Linked DNA regions of Homo sapiens. The protein of the gene in region 4 purifies or fractionates together with the protein of the main gene of each other region. This does not show direct contact. Each region holds a gene or a part of one and is shown on either strand. Other genes may lie near its edges.

Region 1 (6,671 bases), on a different chromosome or scaffold from region 4:
TATATATATATATATATATTTTTTTTTTTTTTTTTTTTTTTTTTTTTGAGACTGGGTCTGGCTATCTTGCCTAGGCTGGAGTGCAGTGGCAATCATGGCTCACTGCAGCCTCGATCTCCCAGGCTTAAGTGATCCTCCCAGCTCAGCCTCCCAAGTAGCTGGGACTACAGGGATGTGTCACCATGCCCAACTAATTTTTGTACTTTTTGGTAGAGACAGGGTTTCACCATGTTGCCTAGGCTGGTCTCAGAATTCCTGGACTCAAGCTGTCTGCCTCTCCTAGCTTCCCAAAGTGCTGGGATTATAGGTGTGAGCCACCCTCCCCAGCCCGTCTTAACCTCTACTACCTTATTTGGCAGGAGCCAGTGGTCCCCCCTTTCCTCCACAATAACTTATTTTTGTTTGCACTTAATGAGTTGTCCTATAGTAGGTCTAATAAAATGTGTGATATAATTGGCAGTGCTGTTCACTTTAAGAGCAGCTTTTGATTAAATTGGGCTCCTTCCCCATATTTAGACTTCAGTGATCATAATGCTGAGCTTTGCATACCATTAAGAGTTAGTGGGTTTGAGTAAAGGTGTTTTAATAATATTTTAAATAAGTACCAGTAAGTACTAATAATATTTTTTTTGTGTGTTAGAGGTTACAATCAAAAGTTTTAAAATTAGTTGATATATCCTATGGTGGTGAAAATGGATTCAACCAAGCTATTGAGTTATCTACTGAAGTCCTCTCCAACGTGAAATTCATTCAAGAGAAGAAATTAATAGGTATCGGTGAAATGCAACTACTTATTCTGTGAAATGTTTTCGTGTGTGTGTGTGTGTGTGTGTGTGTGTGTATGTGTGTGTGTGTATGTACGTGATTGTATGTATGAGACAAGGTACCAAAAATGTAAAAAGGAATATTTAGTATTTTTATTAACTCTTTTGCCTCAGTAAAAGCATTATTTTTTATCTTCTTTAGTCATTAGGTCGAATAGGTGTGTTTGTATCTACTAGGGAAACTTTAATATATATCCTGTTGACTGATCCCTAATCGTAGGACGATACTTTGATGAAATCAGCCAGGACACGGGCAAGTACTGTTTTGGCGTTGAAGATACACTAAAGGCTTTGGAAATGGGAGCTGTAGAAATTCTAATAGTCTATGAAAATCTGGATATAATGAGATATGTTCTTCATTGCCAAGGCACAGAAGGTATGAGAATTAGAAAATAAGGTTGCTATTTGTTACTGAGCCAGGAAGCCTGGGGTGGAGATTTGGGAGGGATGGCTGATTTCAGGAGCAATCAGAAGGTAGATCTACCCATTGTTCCCCAGTCCTTCAGTCTGTAGCACATTCCTGCATAGATTTTTCTGCTTGAACTGTTTAACGTCTGCTTAAGATTGTTACATCTGCTGAGGACCAGGACTATATCTTGAACATCTCTGATGTTCCTTATGGTTGAAGCATTGTACCTAGTAGACACTCAGTGTATGCTAACATGTTTATGGAAAAAATGTTGAGAGATTGAGTCCCTGAGCCCTTTTCTCATCTAACCTCATCTTATGGAGCTTACACAGATTAGTATATGAGAGCCAGGTTAACACATTTTTTCCTCCTAATACTACAGAGGAGAAAATTCTCTATCTAACTCCAGAGCAAGAAAAGGATAAATCTCATTTCACAGACAAAGAGGTATGTGATTATTTTCTTGGTTTGATGATACGTGCAAGCGTAAATCCGTGTGTTAGAGTACTGGCTGTGTAGAGGGTGAGCTTTGGGAAACCAAACCTTATACTAATTGGGGGTGCTGTGGGAGGTGGTCATCTATCTGCCACATACGAATCTGATTTCAGGGAAGGAGCTGCAGCTTTTTTTTTTTTTTTTTTTTTTTTTTTTTTTGAGACAAGGTCTTGCTCTGTTGCCCAAGCTGGAGTGCAGTGGCATGATCTCGGCTCGCTGCAACCTCCACCTCCTGGGCTCAAGTGATCCTCTTGCCTCAGCCTCTCTGGTAGCTGGGACTACAGGCATACACCACCACGCCCAACTAATTTTTGAATTTTTTGTAGAGAGGCGTTTTCACCATGTTGCCCTGGGCTGGTCTCAAACTCCTGAGCTCAAGCAATCCACTTACCTCGGCCTCCCAAGTGGTGGGATTACAGGTGTGAGCCACCATGACCGGTCTTTTTTTTTTTTTCTTTGAGATAGGGTCCTGGTCTGTCACCCAGGCTGGATTCAGTGGCACAATCATAGCTCACTATAACCTCGAACCCCTGGGCTCAGGCAATCCTTCTGCCTCAGTCTACTGAGTAGCCAGGAGTACAGGCACAAGCCCTCATTCCCTTTTTTTTTTTTTTTTTTTTTTGAGGTGGAGTTTGCTCTTGTCACCCAGGCTGGAGTGCAGTGGTGTGATCTCGGCTCACTGCAACCTCCACCTCCCGAGTTCAAGCAATTCTCCTGCCTCAGCCTCCCGAGTAGATGGGACTACAGGCGCCCGCCACCACGCCTGACTAATTTTTGTATTTTTAGTAGAGACTGGGTTTCATCATGTTGGCCAGGCTGGTCTCGAACTCCTGACCTCAGGTGATCCACCTGCCTTAGCCTCCCAAAATGCTGGGATTACAGGCGTGAGCCACCATGCCAGGCAGCCTAATTTTTTTTATAGAAATGGGGTCTTGCTGTGTTCACCAGGCTGGTCTTGAACTCCTGGGCCCAAGTGATCCTCCTACATTGGTTTTCCAGAGTGGTGAGATTACAGACGTGACCCACCATGCCTGGCCTGGTTTTTGTTTGTTTGTTTGTTTTTGTCTTTGTTTTTAAGTAGTTAAGCAATCAGGAAAACATTTCATTATCCTTGAAATTTAATAGGGAGGAAAATGTAATTTACATAATGCCTCTCCTGCACTGTGAAACCTGTGCTGCTTTCTTCACTTGATCAGCTCTTCCACTGCAGTGGCTTCTCTGGTTTGCTCTAAGTGCATCACAACAGTTGAAAGTATGACCCTCCCGTATGAGATAGGTTTAAATGATAGCTTCCTCAAATTCTGGTTTGGAGAGCTTTGTTCTCTACGAGGCCACTCCCAAAAGCAGTCCTGGAATGTCTCTTCTGAGCCATTGAATGGGTGCTGCTTAGAGACACTACAACAGCCTGACTTCTAGAGTCAACAGTAGGAATCATAAGCTGAATACCCACTGAGTTTTTGTGTTGGTATTTCATAGCTGAGGGTAGAGCCTGAGGAGAAGTGTTGTTTGAAATAATCCGAATTTCTCTGCTGATATCCATTAGGTTATCAAAACCAGAGATGACTTACAGAGCTTTACACACAGACATGCCTATAAATGGGAGGATGAGAGTGATAGGTGGGCAAGGGGCTGTGAGAGGGACTAATTAGCCTTCATATATCCTAATCCCCCATTTTTGTATCTCATGGTCATCCCTGTAGACCGGACAGGAACATGAGCTTATCGAGAGCATGCCCCTGTTGGAATGGTTTGCTAACAACTATAAAAAATTTGGAGCTACGTTGGAAATTGTCACAGATAAATCACAAGAAGGGTCTCAGTTTGTGAAAGGATTTGGTGGAATTGGAGGTGAGTAGCAAATCAGCAAACCAAACTTAAAACCAGGGTCTCAGGTCAAGGTCCCTCCTGGCTAGCCCTAGCCCTGCTTCCGGTGAGGTGCTTATTATCTGCTGGGATAGGTGATTGACGCAGCAGGTGCAGGTTCCTAATTTGGACCCATGTTTATTATTACCTCTTTGCTTTCTGCAATTCTGCAAGAGAATAGGGCTTCCCTTATTCCCTTACCAGCCACCTACACACATGCCCATCCCATGAACACAGGTAATTTACCTTTTGGTTTGTTTCCCCAGGTATCTTGCGGTACCGAGTAGATTTCCAGGGAATGGAATACCAAGGAGGAGACGATGAATTTTTTGACCTTGATGACTACTAGGTAGTCGACATGGGTCCGGCAAAACGTGCCTCACCCTCCAGCATCCAACCCAAGGAGCATACCCATGGTGGAATCCAAACAGATCCCTGCCTTACAATTGGAACATTTCCAGAACTTAATCCATGAGCATTGGATATTGAAAAGAAAACCGAAACAAAACCAGACCCAGCCCTACACTTTGGTTTGTCATGGTGTCAGCGCAGCAGCCTACAACTAAGTTCCTAAACGCCACTTTGGACTAATTTAAAAAAGAATCCCAGTTTTTACTTTTACTGGATGGTGAAATTGGTTGCTCTTGTATTTTATGAAAAAAAATGATTTTTTTAACCTTCATACATAGAAGCAAAAATACTTTAACTGCTGTAAACCTTCAAAAGTTAATAGAAGTGAGATCATACTGGTTTGTTTCTTATTTTGATTGGAGAAAAATTAAATTGCTGCATTTCGCAGTGACCCATTTACATGGCATTCTCAGCTTAGACTGCGTAAGAAGAAATATATGTGGTGAAATGTTGGAACCATTTCTCTCTTGGTCTCTGTTTAATGTTGAAAGGGTGAGCTAATAGGAGGCACTTTCAACTTCACTCCCTCACGCTACCCCGTCCCCCTCCAGACTGGCAGTTTCAAGGATGCAAATTGCATTGCAAAATCAAACTGACTCATGAAGCATTTGGGCCAGTGCACTGTTTACTTCCATCTGTTTGCAGACACATTTGTGCCCGGCGTTTGGGAGCCCTTTGTATCAATGTTCTGACAAGGGTCCCTATAACCTTAACCTACTCGAAACCGGTTTGGGATGGATATGATGGGGCTTCTGTGCTATTGCTGGGATTGGGAGAAATAAAACATGCAATTTAAGTGGAAGCGAAGAAATTTAAAGAGGATTTTATTTTGCTTGGGTCAATCCTTGTTAAAAGGGAGGTGGATGTGTTTTCCTTGTGTTGGATGGCATGAGATTATGTGAATGTTTTGATTTATTAAAATGAACTGCAAGGTTTTTCACAGGAACGACAGACATGTATGACTGCATGTAATTATAAACTCCTGACCTCCTGGTGGGGTTGGAGCATCTGTTTCAAATGTGGGACTTACAAGCACTTCTCACATGAGAAATTAGGGGCGGGTGGGAAGGGATGGGACACAGCTTCTGGCACCATGGATTTAAGACCATGTTGGATCCAAAAGTTGGCCTGAAACCCTGAAGCTTATGCTTCACAGCTGGGCTGTAAGTCAGACTTGAACCCAGCTGATATGCAAGGTCATGGCGTGCCCAGGGTGGTGACAGTTGAACAAAGTGTATAGTACGTGCCCAGTGGTAGCGATGGAAAAAAGTATACCAAATGGACTTTGAAGGACCAAAGGTTTTAAAAGTCAATTGGTATCACCTCCACACTGACTAGGGTAGTGGGGTGCATTTGGTTTTCAAATTGGGTACTTTTAACACTTTAGTGCCTGACTGCTGTTCTTTACTGACTTGATTCAGTCACTCGTAGCTTTATTGGTCTGAACCAGCTCCTTGTTCCCAGGTTACAGACCTGCCTATCGTTCCAATAATCCTGTTTCACTTGAATGAAGGGAGTATGTCTTAAATGTAAAGTTTCTGGTTCTCACACTGTACTCTGAGGTCCAAATACTGTCTGTCAATGTGTAACCTGATGTCTCAACCCCCTGTGAGAAGAGTCCATTATTTGGTGTTCACCAACGTGGGAGACTTCACCGGAACAGGCTTTTTTGCTTTGGGCTCTGCTATTTGTTTGCAGAACACCCAAGAGCGAGCAAACATGCTCTCTTCACAGCAGTACCTTAGGGTTTTGCCATTGTAAATGGGTCTGATGTGATATGACAAGACCAGAGAAATTGGATGTAAATTTACATTTTTGAATATGCTTGTTGTTTCACATGATACATTTAGGGTATGCAGCTCCTTTTGTAGTTTTTATTTTTACTATTTAAGTTTGGAAATGATGCCAAATTTTTGTATTTCTTTAATCAATGTGTTCTCTTCGGTGATATATATTGCATTATATATTGATGTGTGTATCAATATATATTGATATGTATTACACTTACACATACAAACACATATAAGAGGGGGTGAAAACCGTAGCCTTTGCATTCTCTATAGCCTCTGCAGAGAGATACTAAGCAGCAAAATCTTGGTGTTGTGATGTACAGAAATGGAGAAGAGTATTAAACCATATTTAAGAATATACTTTGTGTGCTTGAGATTTTTTAGGACTGGTCTAGAAAGGCCTGAACTGTGGAGACAGTTCTCCAAGGCATACCTCAGATTAGTCACGGCCAATAGCATTTCAGCCTTGGGTTTGAGTTGTGTTTACTACATTTGTCTATGGAAAGGTATATGCAAAGTTTTTCTGAGGTCATGATCCCAGAGTTATGCTAGAAGAAGAAGGTTCAGGTTGCTGGGGCCAAACTAATTTGTATTCTCCCCCATTCTATATGCATGCCAAAGGGAATCTTGCTTTTTTTTTTTTTTAAGGTATGTTAAGTATATTATCCCATAACCCAGCATCCCATGGAGGTAGATGGTGTACCCAATTTTACAGGTGATGAAACAGAACAAAAGAAGGTTAAGTAGCAGCTCTTTAGTGATAACACCAAAATTTTATCCCAGGCCTTATTCCAAAGTTCTCTCTGTATCTGTCTTTGAGTCCTATAATAGAATGGTCCAGATGGAATAGCAGAAACTAGGCCTGGGCCCTCTCTCTCT
Region 2 (7,029 bases), on a different chromosome or scaffold from region 4:
ATTTCTCTTTTCACTTACTACCAGCTCCCACTCAACGCCTATAAATCCTATCAGTTTTACACTGGAGAGGTGGGGATCCTCCCACGAAGGAAGCACTCAATAAATGGAAGCTATTAGTATCTTCCCATTGCTTCTGAGTCCTAGGCAATGTCACCTCTAGCCTGCATCACAGCAATATCCTCCAAACTCATGTCCCCGCCCCTCCCTTGGCCTTTACAATCCATCCCTCTACACTAAGCCATTTTTAAAGAGGGATGTTTTAAAAATGTATGTTGGAATATATTGGAATATATCATTCCCCTGGTTAAAACTCTTCAATGACATCCCATGAGAAAAAAATCCTAACTTCCAAGACTTACAGGGTGTATGTGACTGCTGCATGTCCACCTCTCGGACCTCATCTGGATATCACTTTTCCCTTTGTGCACTATATTCTAACCACACCAGCCTTCATTCTGTTTCTCTTAGAAGGCCAAGATGATCTCTGCCTTAAGTTTTTCTTAATAGCTGCTCCCGCTTCGCATGATTACCGCAAATGTCATTTCCTTAGAGGCCTTCCTGAACCACACTACCTGTGAGATCCTACTCTAGAACATCACTCCATTTTACTATGTCCATATTGTCCTGCTCTGAAAGTATCTTGCTCATTTAATTGTCTTTGCCTGCCTTGTTCACTGCTGCTCCCCCCGTGTCTGGATCCATACTTGGCACATAGAAGGCACTCCAATACATGTTGAATGAAAAATGACATGGACAGCTGTCTCCTCACTGGGAAGAAAACAAGGCACTTGTATGAAAAGCAAGTTTGCAGTCTGGTTAATTAAACTGCTATTCAAATCAAATCTATCCTATGAACTTGGCAGCTTTCTCTGACTTGAGAGTTTTTTTTACTGTTTGTTTGTTTTGGGTGTGGAGGTGTCTTTTATCATAAAAATATCCCTCATCAATTTAGTCAACAGTAATGGGTCAACTATCTTTGTTCATCAACTGACCACAGAAAAAGCACACAGAAAGTATATGTTAATTAGGCTACTCCTACTGTGGACGAGCTGCATCACGGTTGAAGCAGAACTGTTGGACTTTCTGTCCCAATAATGGGGTATAAGAAAGGAGATTGGAAACATGGGTATCCTGAATGTAATACCCAAGCAGAATCTTAAAAGAACCAGAATGCAAACAGAAAGGAATTCGGGCTATTTTATTGAGAAGGACCAGGTTTATCTTCCTCACACTGCCACTGAATCTGCCAAGACACCTAAAACCTGGCTAGTTTTTAAGGTGTTCCCAAGAAAAAAGGAATTTTTAACCCTGGTGTTGCCCACCCCCTTTTCCACCCCTTTCTATTTACTTTTTGGTTTCAGGACAGCTAAAGATTACAGATCGTTTGTCTGTTTGTAATTTAGAGACAGGGTCATGCTCTGTTGCTAAACCTGGAGTGCAGTGGTATGATTATAGCTCACTACAGCTTTGAACTCCTGGGCTCAAGCAATCCCCCTGCCTCAGCCTCCCAAGTAGCTAGGACTACAGGTGCACACCACCATGCCTGGCTAATTTTTAAAAAATTTTTTGTAGACACAGGGTCTCACTATGCTGCCCAGGCTGGAATTTTTTAATAACACTGTTATGTTTACTATCCCTACAAGAAATCATTCCAGCCAACTCCCTAGACCAAATCTCTTCCATAATGAGTTAACATTAATTAACTCATTTAACAAATATTTACTGAACGCCTACTGTGTCAGGGCAGACCATAATGTTGCCCAGCTCCTGGGACACCACTTACATGGAGGCTATATAAATGGTATTCCTTCAAGCTACATAACTCAGCAGCTCTGTGCCAGACACTTTACTAGGTGCCTGGAATATAGGAAAAAACAAATGATCCAATGAATGAGCAAATGTGGAACAGGCATTGTACTACATACTTTTAAACATATTGTCTGTCTTTACCCTCACAACTCTTATGAGGGGGAGTGGTATCCTCCCCCTTTAGCCAGTTAGGAAATTTGGGCTCAAAAAGTTAAGTAACACATCCAAGGTCACTCACATAGTGTCTGAGGCAGAGCTACCATCAATTTCTAAGCAACTGTGAACTAAATCTCATCAAAGCAAGAAAATCTGTCTATTTCAGATAGCTCCTCTAGTAGTCTGTTCTAAGCTTACTCTGTTATGAAGATTCAGTATTTTTTTCAAGTTAATAACACATTTTGCTACTTGCGCCCATGTTGATCAAAAGGTGAGCCAGTTATGTAACTTATCCACAAAAACCATCTTTTTCATCTCTAGAAAGCTAGGTGTCATTTCTTTCTCTTGGATTTCTAATTTTATTCCTTCAAACTTTTCAAATCCTGCAATGAAAGCAGGACTTCATTTCTCATTTAAGGCCTTTCACTATATTTTAGACCTAGTAACAATTTATGTTTAACCTACTAGTCTCCCATTCATGTTTCCCAATTCCTTTTGCAAATATCTGTTTATATATTTACTTATAAACATAATATTCTAATGAACGATAGTTTTTCTTTGCTTTTCCTGGGCACCTAATTTAAGCCCACAGAAAGCTTTTGTTTTTACATGAAGTAAAGTAATTTATAAAACTTTTAATCCAATGTATGCTTTCTATGGTATTAGTTGTATGAGTGCCACTCCTCTCTGCCACAAAACACAACAGCACCAGGCTTAATACAATATAGCCAGAGCAAACACCTACTTTCTACACTAATAATTACTATTATTGCAGTTACAGTAATGCCTACTATTTTTAGTAAACTAGACATCTAGAAATCCAGAAGGAAATAAAAAGGAAGGCATTTGGCAATTAATTTCTTGCTATTAAGTTATGTTACTAAAAGGTTCCCTTACTAGTTAGCTTTGTTTTTTGATCATAAGCTGATGAGACAACTCAACCAAACCAAGGAAAATACCATAACCAAGAAATAAATTCAAAAAATGAAAATGAATATATCTAGAAGAAAGATAATGCTAGGCTGAATCTCTCAAATGTATCAGAATGTTTACATGTCTCGATAGTTCTTGAGGGCTCAACAAAACATAAAACCACAATTCGGCCTCCACAACTCTCTGTAAAGTAGGAAGTTGTCAATTTACAAAGGCTATCACAGAAAAGGAAAGAACAAAAAGGTGGGAAAGGCAATGAATTTAAAAACAAATCCAAAAAACAGACAACATACCTGGCAACATGAGAAAAAGCATCCACAAGGACAGATTCAAATTCTCTAGTGAATTCAGGTCCTTTCCTTTTACTGTTTTGGATGACATCATTCGCTAAATACAGAAAAGTAAGCTTTCTATTTGATTTGGCTGAAAAAAAGAAAAGAAAAGAATTTAACTTACACCAAAGAAATTCTCAATTCACAATTCTTTTGCCCTGGGCTGCTCCTAAAAAAACATTAAGACAAGTATTATCTACCTGGGGGGTCAAGTAGATATGTTTAAAAAGACCACCTAAGGAATAGGTTTGGGAATACCATTTCGGAAAAAAAAAAAAGAAAAAGAAAAAGAATGGGCCATCTTCATTGCTGTGTTGTTTAAACCAGGGTAATTAATTGATAGTAAAAATTAAGATAATCCAAAGAGAATTCCTAAAGGATAAGCAGTCAGTGTTAATGTTGAAACTAGGGCTTTTATTTATTCTACTGCAAAAATGAGCAACTTCTAACTCACTTTTAATTATCAAATATTTCAGAATGAAAGACTGAGTTGGCCGGACGCAGTGGCTCATGCCTGTAATCTCAGCACTCTGGGAGGACGAGGTGGGTGGATCATTTGAGGTCAGGAGTTTGAGACCAGCCTGGCCAACATGGTGAAACCCTACCTCTACTAAAGATACAAAAATTAGCCGGGTGTGATGGTGGGCACCTGTAGTCCCAGCTACTCAGGAGGCTGAGGCAGGAGAATCGCTTGAACCCAGGAGGTGGAGGTTGCAGTGAGCCGAGATTGCACTACTGTACTCCAGCTTGGGCAATAGAGCAAGACTCTGTCTCAAAAAAAAAAAAAAAAGACTGAGTTAGGTTTCAATTTTAAAATGGTTTCGCCGAGCGTGGTGGCTCATGCCTGTCATCCCAGCACTTTTGGAGGCCGAGATGGACGGATCACCTGAGGTCGGGAGTTTGAGACCAGCCTGACCAACGTGGAGAAACCCCGTCTCTACTAAAAATACAAAATTTGCCTGGCGTGGTGGCACATGCCTGTAATCCCAGTTACTCAGGAGGCTGAGGTGGGAGAATCGCTTGAATCCGGGAGGTAGAGGTTGTGGTGAGCCTAGATCATGCTGTTGCACTCCAGCCTGGGCAACAAGAGCAAAACTCCGTCTCAAAAAAAAAAAAAAGGTTTCTTGTAATTTTGCTCCTAAACTGAGAATTTCTCTGATACTCCAATAACCATAATCAATAATATAGAAGAATCTCTAGGTGCACCAATAGATATTAGCTCAAATACAAGTATACATTAACACTACACTCTTATTGAAAATTTACACACGTGTGAAATCTAGATATGCAAAATTAGGGCTTTCACAAAAACCATAATTCTCTCTTATTTATATGAAATGTGGTTATTCCCTATTACTCTATATGGTATCATATATTAAACCATAAAAACCTCGTGCAATATGTCTGAGTTACAGTTGCTTTGGGGAACATTACTGAATTCCCTGGCTTCTATGCACATAATTTCTCAACTATAAAGTTACATCCCTACAATTTTTGGTTCCAATTTTCTTTTAAAAGAAATAAATAAGAACATAATTAGATGTTTCAAAACACAAAGTTTTCTCCAATGCTAAAGTACCTGAAAAACACAAGCTCTTTATCAACCTTAACACACCTGAGTAACTCTATTTCTCTCTGAAACCAGTTGTTTCTTTTGAAATGTACAAAGCATTGATATGTCTGACATAGCAGGCATAAGATCTGACATTTTAAAATGTAGCTACAGGAGGCTGGGCACAGTGGCTCACGCCTGTAATCCCAGCACTCCGGGAGGCCAAGGCAGGTGGATCACCTGAGGTCACGAGATCAAGGCCATCCTGGCTAACATGGTGAAACCTTGTCTCTACTAAAAATACAAAAAATTAGCCAGGCGTGGTGGCGGGCGCCTGTAGTCCCAGCTACTCAGGAGGCTGAGGCAGGACAATGGGGTGAGCCCAGGAGGCGGAGCTTGCAGTGAGCCGAGATCACACCACTGCACTCCAGTCTGGGTGACAGAGCAAGACTCTGTCTCAAAAAAAAAAAAAAAAAAAAAAAACAAAACAAAAAAAATCAGCCGGGCGTGGTGCCAGGCGCCTGTAAACCCAGCTACTTGGGAGGCTGAGGCAGGCGAATCACTTGAACCTGGGAGGCGGAGGTTGCAGTGAGCCGAGATCGCGCCAACTGCACTCCCACCTGGGTGACAGAGTAAGAGACTCCGTCTCAAAAAAAAAAAAAAAAATGTAGCTACAGGAGAGTAACCCAAGTTAAAAACATGATTTTAATAGCACATTACAGTTTAAACTGATGAAACTGATGTCTTAAATGCTCATAAAATTAAATATGGATACCCTGAATTGTCTTAACCTTCTGGTAATAACCTAGTTTAGATGGCCAACTGATAAGAATACTAGGAACCTGGAGCTTTCTTCAACTTTCTAATTATTATTCAAAAGCAGAACAAAAGTGTCAGTAGTTACAATATCTACTGTTGCTACAAAGGTATGATTATGGCAAAACGTGCTTTTTTGTTAAAGCAAACCTTGCTCTGCAAAGTTGATGTAAGTGAAACTACTACACCTATAATCCCATGCAAGTTAGCAGATTCGAAAGCAAAACAGAACTTCAACAAAGCAAATTTCATTAAGTGAAGCTTTAAAATTCCATACACTTTATGTTGAAAAAAAAAAAACCTAGAATCCATATTGTAAAATGTCAGTGTGGACATTCAAGACCTGATATATACTTCTCAGTAGACAAACAAGGTATCTAAGGGGCTTGAGACCCAAGGTTTTCACTGTTTACAATGCCAATTAATTTTCATCACCCCAGAACTTAACAATGGGGATTTATTTAGGATAAACTGTATCCCTCCATATTCAACATCCTCAACAGTCAACATAAGCACCATGTGTGTCAAGGTGATATGACAAAACCCTAGAGCTCTTGAGCACACACAGTCACAATACACACAACATGCACACCCCTCCATCCCAATCCTGGGGGACAACTCACTTGTTCAGATGTCCTTCCTATACGACAGAAATAGGTCCTTTCACTCACTACCCATGTCCATTCCAAACTGGTCAAACTAGTTGTTGAGTAAAATTTAAACAACTGGTTAATCAAAACTTTTCACTTGTTTGGCTGGTTTTGACATCTACAGAAAGTCTTAAAGTAATTCTGCAATAAAAGCCCATTACCTACATTCAGGCCAAGATACAAAACACCATTAAAAACATTCATTTAGGAGCACTTTACACCAAAACTAGTCCATAAAGAAGGGGAGACGTTCTACTTAGAACAGAGCTCAAATGGGATAAATTAAAAATTATTCCTAGAAAATGGAAAGACAACACATCAGGAATAGAAGTATTTAAGCAAGAAAAAAAGTTAATTTTTATAAATCTCATATATTTTGAAGGCAACTCAGAGACAGTCTGTGAGCATCTCAGCTACGGAAAATGACTTCACCCTAGGTAGAACCTACAGGGCTAATCAATCTGAACATTAGGGCACAGAATCCTTTTCTTTCAGTGTGGGGGCATTTTCAGTTCATGAAATAAGCCTGGATATTCGGAAGCTAGGTATTGATGCTTGGAAGAGCATCTTTTTTTAACTCTGCACTGTCCAGTAAGTTAGCCACTAGCCACGTGTGGCTATTGGAACACCTGAATTGCAGCTGGTAAAAACTGGAAACTAAATTTTCAATTCTATCTACTTAAAACTTTAGTTCCTTAGTCACACATTTTAAGTGCTCCATAGCCACATATACCAAGCGGCTACCTGTTGGATGGCACAGATAGAAAACATTGCTATTATC
Region 3 (7,029 bases), on a different chromosome or scaffold from region 4:
TCCTGCCTTGGCTTCCCAAGGTGCTGGGATTACAGGTGTACGCACCTGGCCTTACATATATTACCTTAATGGAAGATTTTAAATAAGGTAGTATTTCTCTATAGCAGTGGTCTTACCTGGGGGTTACTTTTGTCTCCTTTTCCCTAACCAGGAGACACTTGACAATGTCTGCAGACATTTTTGGTTGTGGGATTGTGGTTTTGGTGGTGGGGTACTACTTGCATGTAGGGGTAGAGGCCAGGGATGCTACTAAACATCTTACAATGCACAGGACAGTCTCCCACAACAAACAATTACCAGCCCCAAACACCAACAGTGCTGAGGTTGTGAAACTTCATTATTCTGCAGGGTAACTTATCTTCCTAAAAGATTTAAAGTATTAATATATTGCAATGCTTAATATTTTTAAAAGGTTAGTAATTTAACATTATAACATTCATGTATTCATTACTCAATTGCTACTGTAATAGATGCAGTAGTAATAATAATAACAGTAAAGATGTTAACATTTTTTGAGGCATTACTATGCAAGTTGTGGCTTTGGGCTAAAGTCCTTTCTTTACATTAGGGATGGGCAAACTATGGCCCATAGGCCAGATGTGACAAGCCAGCTGGTTTTTGAAAATAAAGTTTTATTGGAACAGAGACACACTTTTTCATTTACATATTGTCTGTGGCTGCTTTCTCACTATAATGGCAGTTAAGCAGTTATGATAAAGACTGCATGGTCCACAAAATCTAAAATATTTGCTATCTTGCCCATTACAGAAACAATTTACAGACTTAACATGACTGTCTAATTGATCCTCACAAACCTCTCTGAAGTCAGTATTTTTATTATTCCTATTTTACAGATGGGGAAATTGAGCTAAAAGAGATTAAGTCACATACTCAACTCACATGATTAATAAAAGTGGCAGAGCAGAGATTCAAACCCACCCAATCCGCCTCCCAAGTCTGTGCTCTCTATTGGACTTGACAGTATTTCTGTAAAGTAATGAAAGGAAAAAGTTACCTTTGGAATTCCTATACATAGTTTGCTCACATCTGCCAAACTGGGAAGCATGAATGGTTTATTAATAGGTTCATGTACTGTGGTAGAGTCCCTGGGGTCAGGTCCGGCCAGTGCACCTGTAAGGAGCAATACTTATGAATGACAGATATATTGTTTTATAGAGAAGCTGTTGCAAATGATATAGAATTATATAAATACCCAACACAATTGCTGCATCATCCACACATCTGGTTAAGATTCCTGGCACATCCATCGAATTCACCAGGGGAATGAGACCATGACGGGAAACTAAGCCATAGCTTGGTTTGAAACCAACAAGCCCACAGTGGGCAGCAGGATTTCTGGTCGATCCTCCTGTATCTGATCCTAAAGCCCTGGAATTTAAATGGAATTATCTTTAGAAGAATGATATATCTCTAATTATATTTGGAATCTACCCTTTCAATTGTATATTTTTAAACTGTATTTTCCTCTGATTACACAAAAGTAACACATGTTCATCTCAGAGAATTCATAAAGTACAGAAAACTTTAGGTACTCAATATTCCAATACCCAGAGGAAAACACTGTTAACATTTTGGCATATTAAGTTCAAGTCTTTTTAAAAATGCATTTTTTTCACCGTTGAGATAATTCTGTAATCATGAGTTTCCATCCCTTTTTTAACATTAGCTTTTTACTATGTCATTAAAATTCCTGAAAATGTAAAGTATATGTAATATTCCATCATATAAATTCGTGATTCCTGGTATTTTAAAGTCCATTCTCCTTTCAATATACATATAAATCTTGCACTTTCTTCTGATGTTGATATTGAAAACAAATCAAATTAATGGCAATTTTGCAGTATGCTTTTACAGACTAAATACGCCCCTCCTAGAAATTCAGATACAGCCCTTTGCTACCCACCCCATTTAGAATCATGGATTGAGATGTTTAATAATTTAAACTCTTACGTTGTTTCTAACTAGAATAACTATTTAATAAATAACTTTGTTATGAAAATCTCTGAACATAAATTTTTGCTTATGTGTGAGTACTTTTTAGGCTAGCTTCCAAGAAGTAGACTTAGTGCACATAAGTTTCTGATATATGCTGTCAAATTACTTGTCAGAAAGATTATGCCAATTTATATCCCTAGTTGCAGTGAGTCAGATTGTGTTTTAAAGTTTCAGTACCGTCACTGAGTACTAGTAATTTTTAAAATTGTTAGTGTGATAACCAAAAAGTTTTTATTAATGTGCATTTTAAATAATTTTGCACACTTATTTATACATGCATTACTCAACTACAAAGTGACTGTTCATTTCTTTACCCAGTTACCTACAGAGTTTGTGTTGTTCTTATTTTAAAAAAACAAAAAACGGACCTGGAGGACATTATGCTAAATGAAATAAGCCAGTCACAGAAAGACAAATACTACATGACACCACGTACATGAGATAACTAGAGTAATCAAATTCATAAGACACAAAGTAGAAGGTGGTTACCAGGGCTGGGAGAGGGTTGAAGGGTACACAGTTTTAGCGTTGCAAGATGAAAAGTGTTCTGAAGACTGATTGCATGTTTTTAATACTTTTGAACTGTACTTTTAAAAATGGTTAGGCTGGTACATTTTATGTTATGTGCATTTTACCACAATTAAAAAACCATTTCAGGAAAACAGAAGTTGTGCTGTAGAACAGTACATATCTACTATAAAAATTAAAATATTATATAACTATATGATGTATAAAGTAAGATTACTCTTAGAATCACAGCCCCCACAATAACCGTTACCAGTTCTGACATGCATTCATCCAGACATGCAGTACTTCCATGCAATGACTGACATATATACCTATGCAATTGTTACTTTTAACAGAAATGGGTTCTGCAACTTATTTTTCACTTAACAATTTATCTTGGTTATTTTTCCATGTCATTGCATAGTGCTCTAACTTATTCTTTTTAGTGGCTGCACAGTACTCCAGGAATCTTCCTATTTTAAAAGCTATTGTAAAAGAAACAAATCAAAAAGGGGTAAACAAATCAAAAAGGGGTAAACAAATCAAAAATAAGGAAACAAAAGCAGAACACTTTACAGTTTGAGATACATTCAATCTGAAGTTATTTTTGGTCTGTACTTCTGTTGCTTATATTTAAAGTGAAGCTTTGGACTGAACAATGCTCCTAACAATAACATGGCACTTGTGCCCTACAGAAAATGCAAATTAGATTTCCTTTCTTACAGTGTCAAGTTAAGCTACAAAATCAGACTGTTGCTTTCACAATTTTAAAAGATACATTTTCTTATTAGCATTCACTGACGGCTATGTAAAAGTAAAACTTACATTTCCATAGGAATTATGTGTCAAAATGCCATCTACTAAAAAGCACATTCAGAAAGATGAACACTAAGTGGGATGATGAGGACAGAAAAAAAGCACCTAATCCTGCAGTCCTAACTTGTCAGAACTCACATTAATATTAATGCAATGCTATAAAATTTCACAGAGATAAAATGAAATGGTTTTACTTGTTAATAAGATTTTAGGAAAACTGAAAAAAAATCTGTAGAACTCACATCTCCATAGCTCTAAAAAAATATAAATGATTTATGGATTGCAATGTGTGTGAAAGAACTTAGTTTTAATGGATAATTAAGGGGAGATAAAATACAAAACTATTACTAAAGAAACACATTCATTTTGATTAAATTGAGACTGATAAACACAGCAACAGCCATATTTACTTTCTTTTCTTTGGGTAGTTAAGAAATGCTTTACAAATGGAACTGAAAATATGATCAATGGATTCTTACCAAATACAAAGTATGATAGATAAACAGAATCAGCACCTAACAAGCTTGAAAAAACTTTACTTACTGATGTACATTTTTAATTGCAGATTCCTGAAAACACTATTTAAAATATCTTATTAATACATATTAGCATTTTTTCTTTTTTTTCAAAAGATTGATCTTGCTGAAGGATAAACATTACCAACAGTTTAGTTCAGCAGCACTCAACTAAAGCCATTGTATGTTAGTCCCTAAATATTTGTATAATCAGTGAGCACACACTCAAATTATTTAAAAATGAAATGCAATGAAGTTCATTTATGTTCGATGCTTTATTCTGCAAGATCCACAAAATCATATTTTAAGAGAACCAGATACTATGGAGAAAAATTTGTTATTTTAAAGTTAAAAGTATTAAATATACATAGTGTACTGTACAGTTGAGTGCAACTCAAGATATAATTTTGATATACCTTTGAGCACATATAGCTCACTAGAAAGAAAAATACCAGGATATGAACTACTCTATTGCTGGATACAGTTTATGACTGTTTGTATTTGGGTGGGTTTTAAAATACAGATAGAGAAAAGCATCTTACGCGTAGCATGTGAACGCCGATACAGCAGCTGCACTCCCACCTGAGCTTCCTCCAGTTATCAGCCAGTCTGAATCTTCATTCTCGCTGTGGGGATTCTGCTTCCTCTTTTCTCTATATTGTTTTGAATAACTCCAGGGGTTTTTAACTGGTCCAAATACACCATCTGTGCTCCCAGATCTGATGACGAAGTGAAGCAAGATACCTTAGTAAAACTTTCATTTTATGTGAAAATTTCATCTTCTGAGTATATTATTTGCTTCTGACACTCATTGAGCATTTAAGAACCCACTGTAGCTTGAATTGAAAAAGGTGGGAAGCCTGTTCAGATGTAGCTTTCATTAATTGACAGTTGCGGAGGATGGGAAGGAAGAGCATTTGTGGTAGAAAATAGACAAAGCTAATCTGCTAAGAAAAGATTTTGCCTCTTTTGATCATCCAATTCAACTGAAGATGATTTCCCTTGTGAATCAAGGTCTTCCAGCTGAAAAGGGTTACATTCAAACAGTTAAGAACTTCTGAACCAGAAGTTCTATGAAAAACATTACAAGTGGAATGCTAATAACTTAAATTTTTGAAATGATTTTATTCTCAGATAAATTGCAAAAATAAAAATAACATATAAAGCACTTTATACCCTTTACCCAGACATACCTACGGTCAACATTTTATCCCTTTGCTTTACTACTTGTGTGCTCTGTGTACGTTTGTACATATGTACATATATACACAAAGTATGATAGAAACTTAAGGGTATCTTAAGGGTAACTTACATGTATATCATAGCCCTTTATCCCTAAATACTTTAGTGTGTATTTCCTAACAATAAGGATATCACATTATACAGTCACAGTATAGTTATCAATCTCAGTAACATTAATATCAATACAATAATTTTTTTTTTCTTTTTTGAGACGAGTCTCGCTCTACTGGCAGTCTGGAGTGCAGTGGCGCGATCTCGGCTCACTGCAACCTCCGCCTCCCAGATTCAAGCAATTCTCCTGCCTCAGCCTCCCGAGTAGCTGGGACTACAGGTGCGTGCCATCACGCCGGGCTAATTTTTGTATTTTCAGTAGAGACGGGGTTTCACCACGTTGGCCAGGATGGTCTCAATCTCTTGACCTCGTAATCCACCCGCCTTGGCCTCCCAAAGTGCTGGGATTACAGGGGTGAGCCACCACGCCCGGCCTACAATACTTTTATCGAATCTACTGTATGTAATTCAATTCTGTCAACTGATTCAATAATGTACTTTGGCTGGGTGCAGTGGCTCACGCCTGTAATCCCAGCACTTTGGGAGGCCGAGGAGGGCGGAACACGAGGTCAGGAGATCGAGACCATCCTGGATAACACGGTGAAACCCCATCTCTACTAAAAATACAAAAAATTAGCCGGGCGTGGTGGCGGGCGCCTGTAGTCCCAGCTACTCGGGAGGCTGAGGCAGAAGAATGGTGTGAACCCGGGAGGCGGAGCTTGCAGTGAGCCGAGATCGCGCCACTGCACTCTAGCCTGGGTGACAGAGCGAGACTCCATCTCAAAAAAAAAAAAAAAAAAAGTACTTTATGGCATTTTATCTCCTTCCTGGATCAAATCTAGAGTCAGGTCTTCCATTTAATTATCATTGTCTCTCTCTTTTTTTTTTTTTTTTGAGACAGTCTCGCTCTATTGCCCAGGCTGGAGTGCAGTGGCATGATCTTGGCTCACTGCAAGCTCCGCCTCCCGGTTTCAAGTGATCCAGGTTCAAGCGATTCTCATGCCTCTCGAGTAGCTGGGACTACAGGCATCCACTACCATGCCTTGGCCTCCCAAAGTGCTGAGATTACAGGTGTGGGCCACTGTGCCCAAGCTCACTGTGATTTTAATTTTGAATTCCACTAATGATCAACGATATTAAGCATTGTTTCATGTGTTTGTCAACTATGTTTTAATCTCTGATGAAACGTCTTCTTAAATCTTTTGTTCATTTTTTAAAAATAGGGTTGCTTGTTTTCTTATTGAGGTGTGAAATGTTCTATGTATTTTGGATATCGGTTCTTTCTGAGATACATGTTTTGCAAATATTTTTCTCTCAGTCTGTGGCTTGCGTTTTCACTTTTTTAGTAGCATATTTCAAAGTACAGAAGTTCTTAATTTTAATGAAGTCTATTAATTTTTTTTTTTTTTTTTTTTTTTTTTTTGAGAAGGAGTCTTGCTCTGTCACCCAGGCTGGAGTGCAGTGGCGTGATTTCGGCTCACTGCAACCTCTGCCTCCCGGGTTCATGCCATTCTCCTGCCTCAGCCTCCTGAGTAGCGGGGACTACAGGCGCTCGCCACCACGCCCGGCTAATTTTTTGTATTTTTAGTAGAGACAGGGTTTCACTGTGTTAGCCAGGATGGTCTCAATCTCCTGACCTTGTGATCCACCTGCCTCGGCCTCCCAAAGTGCTGGGATTACAGGTGTGAGCCACCGTGCCCGGCCAAGTCTATCAATTTTTTAAGTGGATTTGTGCTTCATGTGTCCTATCTAAAAGAACTCTGACTAATTCAAGGTCACTAATACTTTTCCCTGTTTTTTTTAATTTTTTTTTTCTGTAGAGACAGGGCCTCACTATGTTGCCCAGGCTGATCTAGGACTCCTGGGCTCAAGCAATCCTACT
Region 4 (7,029 bases):
TTCTTTTTTCCCTTCATTTGCTTTCGTTCTTCTACTACTTGTGATACTGTGAGAGTCAAGTCCATTAGCCAAAGGGATCTGAGCATTGTCTGCATTGCACAAAGTATCACTGCTATGACTGGAGCTAAGAATATCACTGTCCACTGAACTTGTACTCCTGTCATTATTCACATCTGAGTCTGATCGTTCTTCAGACTGAAAATTTTCTGGATCAGAAGTCTGAATATGCTGTTCAAGTTCTCTATTATCCACTGATGCTGAAGAGTCCCTCTCATTGAGAGGTGATTCGATGTTTTCAAAGTCACTTGTCTCAGTACTTTTGCTGCTGTCCCCATTATCTCCATCCTGCTGTTGCTGCAGTGACAAGCTTTTGAGTTTTTCAGTGCTTTCTTCTAGAATAGCTTCCACAGACTTTAGGCTTCCTACAGGTCCTTTGACTCTTTCACAGTCATCATCCACATTACCAGAATCGCCTCCAGCTTTCTGGTATGCTGTCCTTTTGGAATAAGATACTGGGGATTGTTCAGGTAGCAAAACAAATAATCTGATTGTATTTGCATGCCGATCCAGGAGTTTCCATAAATGAGAGTCTGCAAAGGCCATCTGGTAATCCAAAGTCTCGGAGCTTTCAACAAACACCTACATAGTAAGTCAGAGTTTTATTATATATTAATTTTAGTGACATGCTCATTCATCATCATCATTATATTGCATCAATACAACACAATACACAGTTATGTTATAACATGTGTGATGATATAGTTTCTGAAGGACTCTATTGTTTTGGAGACTGAATAAAATGAACATTAGGCTCAAATGTCTTTGTAACTAGCCATAAAACTACACTAAGATAGACGGTATGGACATACACATACACACAAACATCTTGTTTATTGGGTTGTCCAATTTCAGAAAGTTGTGTATTATATATCCTTCTCTTTAGGAAATTAATACTCTGGTTTTTCTTTAGATTGTAGAAATCTTTCACCTTTAGGAAATCCAAGTTTAGCCTGAACTACAGACACAGGAACATGTGTAAAGACACCTTGTGAATATAACACCAAAATCCAGATCATGGAAAAATTTAATGGGCAAATGACTTGGCTTTGTAACAAACTGCAAGGAAGCAAACAAAAAAGACACAGGAAAATTTACAGAAAAAAATTTTCTAAGACAATCAGAGAAATTTGAACACTGACTAGATATTGACTGATATTAAGGTATTTCTTAGGTATATAATGTAATTGTCATTTTTTTAAAAGAGTTCTCTTCATTTAGATATATATGTTCATATTATCTATAGATGAAATGATATGATCCTGAGGAAGTTTATCAAATAATCTGGGCGAAGTAGGTGGTTAAATTATAGATGAAACGAGATGATCACTGTGGAAGCTGAGAGATGGGGATGTGTGGGGGTTCACTCTATTTTCCCTATTTTCTCTACTTTTGTTTACGTTTGAAATTTTCCATAATAAATCTTTTTTTAAAATGAAATTCGTACTTGGCATAAATTTGGCAATTATAAATAGCATGTTGGGTTTTGCATAAAAGGATAACACTATCATTATCCTATTCAGTAAATGTTACAAATTGAAACCAGTACGCTAACCGTTTAAGGAAAAAGAAAAGTTTCCCTACTGCACTTCTTACCCTAAAGTAATGTACTGGAGGGGATTAGAAATTTTAATGTTTTACATATACACACACATATACACGTACATCCCCTCCCCCACCACACAAAAGTTTTAGAAGTGTAGGTGAATAAAAATTACATATTAGTAATAAAATACTAAAAAAGTTAAATGAGATAAAAGACTAGACTGTACTAAGATGAATGAGACTAGAGTGATAAAAACACATATGAAAAATGATAAATGATCAAACACATAATAATAGCAAGACAAAAGAAGAGGATTAACATGAACTTTCTCATTTCCAACAGAGAAAAATAAGTAGGCAAAAGGAATAATGTTGGGTGAACTCAAGATTATAATTTTCTCTATACCAGGTATGCCTCTGACCCTCACCATGAAGCACTGCTTTATGGGACAAGCTCAAGAATAAACACAATCCAGGGGACATAATCACTGTGGGAAGAAATGGTTATGAAGTCTTCACCAAAGAGGTAGGACTAATCTGGAGACTGAAAAAAAAAAAATGCAGGGAGAGGAGGAAGAACACTCCAGGTGGGAGTGCACATGAACAAAGGCAAAGAAGAGGAGAACCAGTAGGACTGATTCACAGGACAGAAGGGAGCCTGACCTGACCTGACTACAAAGGAAGGTAATTACTGGGTTGAGAATTTTAAATTAAGTTCCAGACAGATGTTGAACAGCTGTGGAGGCCAGGCTTATAATATTGAACCTAATTTCATTTACTACTACCAGCATAGAAAATAGTAATGAAAAAGTAAATGACATACCTTGTTACTTCTAAAAAATCCTTCAGCTTTCAGGGTTTTACTGGAGACACTGAGAAGACGCAAATCATTGTAGCAGCGTTCCAGCACTATTCTCATTGTTTCAGCAGGTAAATGGATGGCCTATAATGAAAGCAATTTAATAAAAAGTACTCTTTCAAAAATAATTCTGCTTGACTTAAAAATATGGGAAAGCAAGACACTGCTGAGTTCTTCTTAAAAGCAGCAGAGAGAAACATAATTTTAGTAGAGGTTTTAAAATTTTTGAATAATTGAAGGGAAAAATTACTTATAGCCATAAATTATACTGCAAATCAGGAGAACAAAGTACCATTTATAAATGTATGCTCTGAAACTATTTTAAAGGTAAGGATTTTTTCCTAGAATCTCTATTGCTCTCAAACTTGCCAAGTAAATGAGTGATCTGATTCCAAAGAAACTGCGTAACTGACTTTTTGACTGCTGATATCAAAATGTTGAACTTCTTGGCTTTTGACAGGCCTTTCTATAGTCTGTGAATAGTTTTTAATACTTTTATTAAAGCAATAAGCAATTTTCCTTTGTGTAAAATGAGAAGATTAGTAGGGAAAATTTTAAGTTTTTCTGAAAGTCCACATCTTTAATTTTTGGAGTCATTTTATAAATTGACATGAAAGCAGCAGATAAAAATACTTTACATTTAAAAAACACAATTTCTTTTCAATGCAACTAAGGTCATCAGTTATAAATACCTAATTCTTAAGCAGGCTGGTTAAAAATACTGTATTTGTTTACATGATGTTTTGTGACTGCCTTTATTCTCTATAGACATATTTTTCTCAGTAAGATTATTAACTTCTTGGGGAAGAAACTACTGTGTCTCTTTCTTTTGTATTATGTGTGAGTGCTTATTAAACTAATTTTTTTTACATTTGTCATTCATATTTTAAAAATGTAATATACAGTATATTATACCAACATAGTATGCATTTACAAGCAATTTAATCATAAAATATAATTTCACAAAATGATTTGTTTCTTGGTTATTACTTTAGCAAAATTGTTAGAAGTCATATACAGAAGTCAAAATATAGACTTTTTTTTAGAACATAATAACCACCAACTCTTACATAATGCCTTACAATTTTTTTCCTCAGAGCATTTATTTATTTTTCATTAATGTTCACTACAACTCTGCTAAACAGGTATTTACAACCCCAGATAATGAGATGAAAGACAAGACTACCATAAGATGAATGACTGAAAACTGGACTCAACTTGTAATTATGGAACAATTTCCACTACACCAGGGAATATTAACCTACGGTTCAAGAACCCTGCAAAATCTGCCGTTTGTATGCTCAGGGTTCTGCAGAGTACAGGACCCTTGTAAGGATGATAATCATTTGTCTGGTGTGGACTAATCCTTTTGCCCCCCAAAATTTGAATGTTTTCATTGTTATATTTTTCCAGCTCAAAAAATCGGAATGAGCCTATGTTCTTTATCACTAGCTCACATAATGGCACCAGTATTTAATTCATCACCTTCCCTGTCAAGTCTACAGCCTCACCTTCCTCCTCTATTTCTATTAATGTATCCCTACTTTTCTGGTTACCCAAGTTTGAAACCCCTGGCTCAGGTCATCGGTGCATCTGCTTTACCCCAACATTTAACAATTACAAGTCCTACAGATTCTATCTCTCTTGGAATCCATGCCTTCTCTCATTTCCAGTCATACAACTGCACTTGAATTATTTCAACAGCTTCCTCCTCTCCATTCCTGACTCCCCTCAAGGCATGTGGAACGCTAGTCTAGTGTCACCAGACACTAAATGCAGCATTGCCGCACTTAAAAATGACGAAAACAAAAACTCGACTTATTGCCTACGCCAAAAAGGAGCCCAAACTTTCGTGTTTACTGTTTAAAGCTCTTCATGAAATAAACTGTACTTACATTTCCAATCCTGTATTTTATGATAATCCAGCCAACACATATAAGTTGTTATATGTACTTGCCTTACACTTTCTTACCTCCACACTTTACTCAATCTGTTTCTTTTAACTACAGTTGTCTCCTAACTACAAATATTAATTAGCTCCTGGAGGTAAAGCATGTATCTTATTCATAACTGTCACATAGTGTGTCTTGTACATAGCAGGCTCTCAAAAATTTATTTACAGACCCCTTTTAAAACTTACCTTTGAAATCAGTTGTTTGAATTCTGTAACTGTCTGATTTAAGTAAGCACGAACAGTTATAGGAGCAGCTACAGATTCTGCCTTTAGATCAACAACATGAACTTTCACCATCACTTCTGTCACATTTGAAGACATAAACACAGAATTGGAGGTTATTTTTTAATGTATTTCACATGAGTAATGCATTCTTAATGTGTTTCTAACAGGTGACAAATCCAAACTTCCAAGTACAGATGAAAACAACACTGAATAAATATAAATCACCAGTTACTGCAAAACAAATATTAAAGGTGACACAGCACTCCTGCTTGCTTTTGAACAAACCCCTTATTAAGCCACCTTGTTCATCATCAAAGACTTATCCTCAAAATAATATTTCCTATATCCCAAGGAAAATTCCACACAAAAACTGTTCTGATTATGCCTTTGTTTTCTCACTTAAATCTTTTATATTGAAATTTAATCCCATTCTCTTCTGTTTTCAGAAGGTTATGTTTACAATTAAACTCTTAATCACTTGAAAAATAAATGATCTTCAAACATTGTACTTAATACACAGTTATTCTGTATCTGTTTTAACCTCATGTTTTATGTCAATCCTCAGTTTTTTCCCTACGTTGTTAATCTAAATTTGACAAAATATTCTGCTAAGATCTTGATTATTAATGAATAAAGACTACTTTATAAGTCTTACAATCCACACTTGCATTTAGAGTTCTCTTTCAAATAAGTGGTATTACTGCTGACTCATGTTATATCCTAATCATTCTTTTTCTTGTCTAGCAAAAAAAAAAAAAAAGCAAGGAAATGTCCTTAAGGGACTCTTTATAGATAGGGTAGAGTCTTAGAAGTCGAAGTAGACATCATAAGGTTTCCAGAAATAAAATTTTCCCACTTAAGAGCCGTAGACTCCTTGAAAGAATACTACATCTAACCTACTCTGTAAACAGAGGCCTTCATTTAAAAAGGAGATATACAGGATCCACAGAAGAACATTATTGTAAAAGGGCAGAATAAAGTTTTGTAAGTTCAACTTTTAGGGAAAAAACACAGAGAACCTAATTCTCACTAACCACTGATGCAAAGGAGTTAGGGCCAAGACAAAACAGTATGGATTTTGTAAAATTATATAAACATTCTGCTTTTCTTCTATTTGTTACAATTTACATATGGTAATTATAGAAAACTCTGGACAAAAACAGACCATGTAACTGTCTATAGGGAAACTGTCTCTGGGAAAACTAGGGGCATGATATTTTGGTTTTCCTAAGCAGTCTCAAAGAAAAAAAAATAACAAACTCAATGTGCTGAGTGAATGTGATAGATTTAATGAAGAAAGAAAAGATGAAGTCCCTGGGACCTGTAGAAATAGAGAGGATGACGAAAAATTGTAAATGCTGACAGTGATGGGATAATGAATCCACCCTTCCAAAGAAGACCTGAAAAACAGCCTCTACTTCTGAGACTTTATGGGAATATACTTTTTTGGACCAAGGTCTTCTCCATAAAGAGAAAGAAAGAGAAAGAGAGATCTTCCTAAGAGAGCAATTGATAACTTTAGGGATTGACAGCATCCAGAATGATTCAGTACCGCCCACTGGAGAAGAAAAAACCCACTGAAGACCGTAAGCTAGAAGCTTTGTTGTTTTTTGTTGTTTTTAAAATTATGTACACAACTCTTTGCAAGTAATCTAGAACTTAATTCCAAGCTGTTGCTGAGTACTTCTCAACCTGTCAAAATTATTCTACATTTTAAGACCATATACAAAATTTAAATTATGTTCATTTCTACAATAAAAAAAAAAACTTTCTCATGAAAATTCTAAGTACAGAACAACTAAAAATAGTGTAAAATTGCTCACCTCCAGGTTTATAAGATTGGAAAACCTGATCAGGCTTTCTCGTCTCCAACAGCAGATCAAACATATATGTTGACTTGACGCCACCTAGTAGAAGCCCCATTGGTGTATCTTCTTCTCCTTCATATGACCGTTCTAGATAATCATGAAACTCATCATATTTAACAAGGCGACAGCAATCCAGGGGTATTACCTCTTCTAAATCCATCATCTAAAAGAAAGTAATCCCCCAGAAAGAAAAAATATATATACATATATATTTATATATATACATATATAAATACACAGTGTTTTAGTCTGTTGGGGAATAACATTACAATAGGCCCTAACAAAATCCACACATTTATGATTTGCATCAAAGACATCAAAGTTACAGGCACAACTTAAATGTTATTTTTAAATAATTATGTTTCATTATCCCTCCAATCATATAAAGCATGTACTAAATACATTTTTTATTTTTTAAAAAGTTAACATCATAAACTTTAGGTGTAGAAACAAAATCAATGTATTGTAACTATTGTTCATAATCAACTAATCTGGAAACACAGAGGAAAACAACCAAACAG

Evidence for each region.
Region 1: the proteins of USP47 (region 4) and ETF1 purify together in Homo sapiens (affinity purification with mass spectrometry; 2 studies listed by BioGRID and IntAct, with this or other methods). This does not show direct contact.
Region 2: the proteins of USP47 (region 4) and RPRD1B purify together in Homo sapiens (affinity purification with mass spectrometry; 2 studies listed by BioGRID and IntAct, with this or other methods). This does not show direct contact.
Region 3: the proteins of USP47 (region 4) and QRSL1 purify together in Homo sapiens (affinity purification with mass spectrometry; 2 studies listed by BioGRID and IntAct, with this or other methods). This does not show direct contact.

Annotation. Positions count from the first base shown.
Region 1 is NC_000005.10:138,505,574-138,512,244, reverse strand, and holds the end of ETF1 (eukaryotic peptide chain release factor subunit 1), read left to right. Parts: intron 1-640; coding exon 641-770; intron 771-1,044; coding exon 1,045-1,200; intron 1,201-1,615; coding exon 1,616-1,680; intron 1,681-3,428; coding exon 3,429-3,576; intron 3,577-3,857; coding exon 3,858-3,940; 3' UTR 3,941-6,150; downstream 6,151-6,671. UniProt on the Homo sapiens protein: Component of the eRF1-eRF3-GTP ternary complex, a ternary complex that mediates translation termination in response to the termination codons. The eRF1-eRF3-GTP complex binds to a stop codon in the ribosomal A-site.
Region 2 is NC_000020.11:38,036,727-38,043,755, reverse strand, and holds part of RPRD1B (regulation of nuclear pre-mRNA domain-containing protein 1B), read right to left. Parts: intron 6,298-7,029; exon of another isoform or gene 5,649-6,297; intron 3,322-5,648; coding exon 3,192-3,321; intron 1-3,191. UniProt on the Homo sapiens protein: Interacts with phosphorylated C-terminal heptapeptide repeat domain (CTD) of the largest RNA polymerase II subunit POLR2A, and participates in dephosphorylation of the CTD by RPAP2. Transcriptional regulator which enhances expression of CCND1.
Region 3 is NC_000006.12:106,646,569-106,653,597, reverse strand, and holds part of QRSL1 (glutamyl-tRNA(Gln) amidotransferase subunit A, mitochondrial), read right to left. Parts: intron 4,574-7,029; coding exon 4,397-4,573; intron 1,390-4,396; coding exon 1,214-1,389; intron 1,132-1,213; coding exon 1,016-1,131; intron 1-1,015. UniProt on the Homo sapiens protein: Allows the formation of correctly charged Gln-tRNA(Gln) through the transamidation of misacylated Glu-tRNA(Gln) in the mitochondria. The reaction takes place in the presence of glutamine and ATP through an activated gamma-phospho-Glu-tRNA(Gln).
Region 4 is NC_000011.10:11,935,945-11,942,973, reverse strand, and holds part of USP47 (ubiquitin carboxyl-terminal hydrolase 47), read right to left. Parts: intron 6,672-7,029; coding exon 6,464-6,671; intron 4,718-6,463; coding exon 4,602-4,717; intron 2,546-4,601; coding exon 2,426-2,545; intron 640-2,425; coding exon 1-639. UniProt on the Homo sapiens protein: Ubiquitin-specific protease that specifically deubiquitinates monoubiquitinated DNA polymerase beta (POLB), stabilizing POLB thereby playing a role in base-excision repair (BER). Acts as a regulator of cell growth and genome integrity.